Linked DNA regions of Homo sapiens: region 1 is linked to region 2. Evidence: fine-mapped expression QTL. Tissue or cell type: monocytes after LPS. Region 2 holds a variant in brackets; the other region holds the start of a gene. All regions are shown on one strand. Distances are from middle to middle.

Evidence for each region. PIP is the estimated chance that this variant, and not a neighbour inherited with it, causes the effect.
Region 1: NDUFS3 starts here. The variant in region 2 is fine-mapped to the expression of NDUFS3 in monocytes after LPS (Quach 2016, PIP 0.95).

The regions. Positions count from the first base shown.
Region 1 is chr11:47,577,606-47,580,218 of GRCh38, reverse strand. It overlaps NDUFS3 (NADH:ubiquinone oxidoreductase core subunit S3), which reads right to left and starts at 1,145. Exons shown (of 7, transcript NM_004551.3): 1 at 1,061-1,145; 2 at 885-950. The coding sequence starts at 1,127. KBTBD4 (kelch repeat and BTB domain containing 4) reads left to right here and starts at 1,249. Exons shown (of 4, transcript NM_018095.6): 1 at 1,249-1,286; 2 at 2,191-2,613. The coding sequence starts at 1,268. RefSeq lists enhancers at 372-1,030, 1,099-1,338, 1,031-1,690.
Region 2 is chr11:47,402,002-47,404,754 of GRCh38, reverse strand. The region is part of intron 2 of SLC39A13-AS1 (SLC39A13 antisense RNA 1); the gene reads left to right. Among named protein-coding and RNA genes, the nearest start is that of MIR4487, 2.4 kb to the right of the region's middle. The variant T/C (reference allele first, on the strand shown) is at 1,343.

The DNA of each region.
Region 1 (2,613 bases), 180 kb before region 2:
TTCTCCTGTCAGACTAAGAGCTGTTTGAGGATGGGAACTGAACTTTTGCCTCTCTGTAGCTCCTTAGCACGCAAGTTTATACCAGGTTCTCAAGCTAAGAACTTCAGGGCTTGAAGATCCCTCACAGACTCTCTCTCTCCTTAAAAGTGTGTGTGTGTGTGTGTGTCAATGAGAAAACTGAGGCCCAGGTGTGTGTGTGTGTGTGTGTGTGTGTGTGTGTGTGTGTGTGTGTGTCAATGAGAAAACCCAGGAAAGGAGAAATGCCAGGTCTCCTAACTCCCAGTCCGTGTATCTTGACTGTAACATAATATGTACATACTCATTCATGCAACCCTAAACCACTGAGCAATCACACATCACAAGCTACAGAATAATGGTTAGGTGTTTCTGCCTCTGGCAGCAGGCAGGCCTACTTTGTCATTCACTAGGTCTTTGACCCTGGGCAGTTTAATTCTTTGGACTGTTTCCTGATCTATAGTAAGAAGAGTAAGATGCTATCTACCCCATAAGGCTGTTGTGAGGACGAAATAAGATCATTCACTAAAACGCTTAGCGAGGTTCCAGGCACACATTAAGCACTCAATTAACGCTAGGTACTATTATTACAGGGCTCTGAGGCCTAAAGGTTATATTGCTTGCTTTCAAAGAGCTGACAGTTTAATCAGACAAAAAGGGGATGATTGAAATGGACAAGGAACAATCAGGGCCATAACAGGCCTAAGGGCACAGGGAGGGCTCGATTCTGCATGCAGGGTGAAGACCACTGCAAGTCAGATCTCCAAGATTTGCCAGGAGGACGTAGGGAAGGGCATCCTAGGGCAAGGACAGGCATCTAAGGGGCCCCGCCGATAGTTCAGAGAAGAGCGCTGCCCGCACATACTCACGGCGCGTGTCGGCCCCGGCGCTCTCCCGCCTCACCGGCAGCAACAGAACGGAGGGTCGCCCAGTCCCTGCACAGGGAGATAAAAGGCACAGACGCGCGGGATGAGCCCTGAGGAGCTCTCTGCACTGGGCACGCCGCTGCGCCTGACCCCGGTCTCAGCTGGCTGCCCGTGCTCACCCCTGGTCAGCGCCGAGGCCCCCAAGATCCCGCGCCACCACAGCCTGGCTACCGCCGCCGCCGCCATGTTACTCAGATGCAGACTAGGCAGCGGACGGAAAGACAGCAGGACACGGAGCCCCAAGGGCACGGACCGGAAACGGAAGTGTGCAGCAGATCTTCTTCCGGGCGGACGTGGAGCCGGAAGCGGAGGTTCCGGGCTCCGGGATGAAAGGAGGGAACGCAGGTGAGAAAGCGAGACAGGCAGGTAGGGAAATCGTGAGGTGAGCGTGGTCCTAGCTCCTTGTGGCAGAGCCTAGAGAGAAGGCGAGGACGCTGAAGAACCAGGCGGGTGAGAGGAGGGGAGGGGGCGGGCGTTTTGGGTTCTACGCTACACACCCCTCCCCCGCTCTCTGAGCCAAGCTTTTGACGAGGGCGGGCGGGCCTGAGCGGGAAGAACGGTTTCCCTGGCGACCGTTTCCAAGACGACTCAAGGTGGAGCGGGGACATTGCACAGGGTGATGGGCCTCCCAGTGCCCCGGCCTGGGGGCGGATGGACTCAAGTTCTGGGACGCAGCCATAGGGAGTCTTTCGAGCGAGCGGGGAAGTGTGGGGGAAGCAGCTCAGAAGAGAGCAAATGTAAGACCCACGGATATCCCAGGCTAGGCTTCATATGGAGCGTCTTAACTCCATGCGCTGGGAAGGAGAGGACCTGGCCACTAGGCCGGGGCCAGGGGTCCTTTTTGTCTGATTCTACTGCCCCTGAGCTTCACTAGTTTTATGCCCCAGTTATTTGGTTAGTAAGGCTTTTACGATCACAGGCCTCTCCCAGCCCTTTGCTTTCATATATTGACCTAAATCCCAAGTCTTTTGTTAACATTATGGAAAGGAATTATTCCGTGTTTTCTCAGGAAAACACCCAGAGTTGGAACTTTTATTTATATCATTAGCGGAGGGGCGCCACTGGGGATAACGAACCCAGATTTGGTTAAAGGATAGCGTCAGGGACATCATGGACAGGGCCAGGACTAAGGCCAATCTGGACCCACTTTGCTCTCACTTCTTCCTTTTCCCTCCCTGAGTTGGACAGTTGGATTCACAGACTATGGCTGTGAATTCCTCAGGTTACTCAAGATGGTGTTGCTTTGCAGACAGCTGGCAGAGAGAGAAGTTGGCTAGCATGGAATCACCAGAGGAGCCTGGAGCATCCATGGATGAGAACTACTTTGTGAACTACACTTTCAAAGATCGGTCACATTCAGGCCGTGTGGCTCAAGGCATCATGAAACTGTGTCTAGAGGAGGAGCTCTTTGCTGATGTCACCATTTCGGTGGAAGGCCGGGAGTTTCAGCTCCATCGGCTGGTCCTCTCAGCTCAGAGCTGCTTCTTCCGATCCATGTTCACTTCCAACCTGAAGGAGGCCCACAACCGGGTGATTGTGCTGCAGGATGTCAGCGAGTCTGTTTTCCAGCTCCTGGTTGATTATATCTACCATGGGACTGTGAAACTTCGAGCTGAGGAGTTGCAGGAAATTTATGAGGTGTCAGACATGTATCAGCTGACATCTCTCTTTG
Region 2 (2,753 bases):
GTTTTGTTTTTTGTTTTTTGTTTTGTTGTTGTTGTTTGAGACGGAGTCTTGCTCTGTCACCAGTCTGGAGTGCAGTGGCACGATCTTGTCTCACTGCAGCCTCCACCTCCCGGGTTCAAGCCATTCTCCTGCCTCAGCCTCCTGAGTAGCTGGGATTACAAGCTCCCGCCACCACTCCCGGCTAATTTTTTTATTTTTAGTAGAGACGGGGTTTCACTATGTTGGCCAGGCTGGTCTTGAACTCCTGACCTTGTGATCCGCCCGCCTCAGCCTCCCAAAGTGCTGGGACTACAGACGTAAGCCACCAGGCCCGGCCTGTTTTTTTGTTTTTGAGTTGGAGTCTTGCTCTGTCACCTAGGCTGGAGTGCAATGGTGTGATCTCAGCTCACTGTAACCTCCGCCTCCCAGGTTCACGTGATTCTTATGCCTCAGCCCCCCGACTACAGGCACCCACCACCATGCCCGGCTAATTTTTGTATTTTTGGTAGAGACGGGGTTTCAACATGTTGGCCAGGCTGGTTTTGAACTCTTGACCTCAGGTGATCTGCCCTCCTCGGCCTCCCAAAGTGTTGGGATTACAGGCGTGAGCCACTGCACCCAGCCACAAATGAGTGTTTTCTGACATATTTATCAGTTGGTTTGGAGGCCATAGGGTTTTCCTGGGTTGAAGCACTGGACAAACTTCAGCAGAGCTGGATGGGCCTGGGTACTGCGTGGCTCTAAGTGGCTGAGAGGTGTCTGGGATCAGGGAGCCACAGATCTATTTCTCTGACTTCACTGCAATGCCCAGAATCTGACTTTAACCCCTTGTTCCTGTCTCTGGCCCCTGCAAGACTGGCTGGCCTGGCAATGGCCAATGCTTTGACATCCTTCCCTCCACTCTGGCAATCGAGGGCTAGAGACTTGGGCTGGGGATGGATACTTCCAGAGTGTGGTCTCTAGTGAGATATCTGGCCTTATCCTTGTCACAGGGCTTCCTCCCGTGGGGGTCAGCAGGAAGATAGCAGTCTCTTATTGAAAGGCATATGGGGCTCAGGATGGTAATCACATTACGCAGGGTCACAGCTAAAAAGAGGCACAGCAGCTCCCCCAGGGCCACAGGTTCAGCTTCTCCAAAGGAGCCCTGCCCCTCTGAAACCCCTGACCCCAATCCTTTCTCAATCCTTCTTTCCAGGGTAGCCTTAGCTCCCTCATGAGTTCCTGGGGTATTTTCTCCACTGAATCCTAAGCCCTGGCTGGGCAATGCTCCAGTGACCCCACAGGGCCTCTCCCCTCTTCCCTTGCCACCAGCAGCTCCACCATGAACAGCTGAGTCCCACTACTCTCTGTCCAGCCTCTCCAC[T/C]GTGGCAAGTTCTGTCACCCCCACCCCACTCTCGGCAGGCCTGGGATGTCCTTCCCCTTTCGCCATCTCAGTCGATTGAAACCTAGCCTGTTGACAAGGCCACCTCCTCCCTGCAGCCTTCCTGACCTGTCCATTCTGAAGGCTCTGCATGTCGGTGTGTCTTTGGATCCCTTAGCCTTGTCCCCTGGATACACAGGCCTCTTTCCCTGCCAGGTGTGGGCTGCTAGAAAAAGCAAGCTTTTGCCCATACTCTGAATAAAAGTTTATCCAAATCAATTTCATGTCTCCCATTCCCCTTCTCTTGTCTCAGGTGCACAAATTGGGGTGAAATCCTTGTGCGTTCTGCACTGCCCTTTTGGTCCCTGCAAGGCTCTTGTTTAATTTTTGTGTTGATTTACATCTTTCCTTACTTGTTACCCTTCCCCTATCCCATCTCCCTGTCTCCTCCTTCAGTGAAACCTGAATTTTGTGATGATCAGTCCTTTGCTTTTTATTTTTCTTTCTTTCTTTTTTTCTTTTTGAGACAGATTCTAGCTCTGTCACCCAGGCTGCAGAGCAGTGGCGCAATCTCAGCTCACTACAACCCCTGCCTCCCAGGTTCAAGCGATTCTCCTGCCTCAGCCTCCCGAGAAGCTGGGACTATAGGCGCCCACCATGCCCAGCTAATTTTTGTGTTTTTAGTAGAAACAGGGTTTCACCATGTTGGCCAGGCTGGTCTTGAACTCCTGACCTCAAGTGATTCGCTGGTCTCGGCCTCCCAAAGTGCTGGGATTACAGGTGTGAGCCACCACGCCTGGCCTTTCTTTTTTTAAAATTAGAGATTTTAATTTTAATTTTAAAATTTTTTTAAAATTGTTGCCCAGGCTGGTCTCAAGCTTCCGGGCTCACATGGTCCTCTGGCCCCAGTCTCCCAAGAAGCTAGGACTACAGGCACACACCACCACACCTGACTCTTGCTTTTATTTTTTTGATAAAGCTTTTTCTGACATATGTATGTATACCTAGACAATATTCCATTTGAATTGGCTTTTTTAAAAAAAAAACTATTTTAAGGTTTTACATTATTTAGTGAATTTAACAATTGTTTTCCTATAGGTTCTGCATAATTATTACCAAGTTTACTTCTAGATATTTTATATTTGTGGGGATATATATATATATATATATATATATATATTTTTTTTTTTTTTTTTTTTTTTTTTTTTTTGAGACAGAGTCTCACTCCGTTGCCCATGCTGGAGTATAGCACAATCTCCGCTGACCACAACCTCGGCCTTCTGGGCTCAAATGATCCTCCCACTTCAGCCTCCCAAGTAGCTGGGACCACAGGCACAAACCACCATGCTCGGCTAATTTTTTTTTGGTATTTTTTGTAGAGATGGGGTTTTGCCATGTTGCCCAGGCTGGTCTT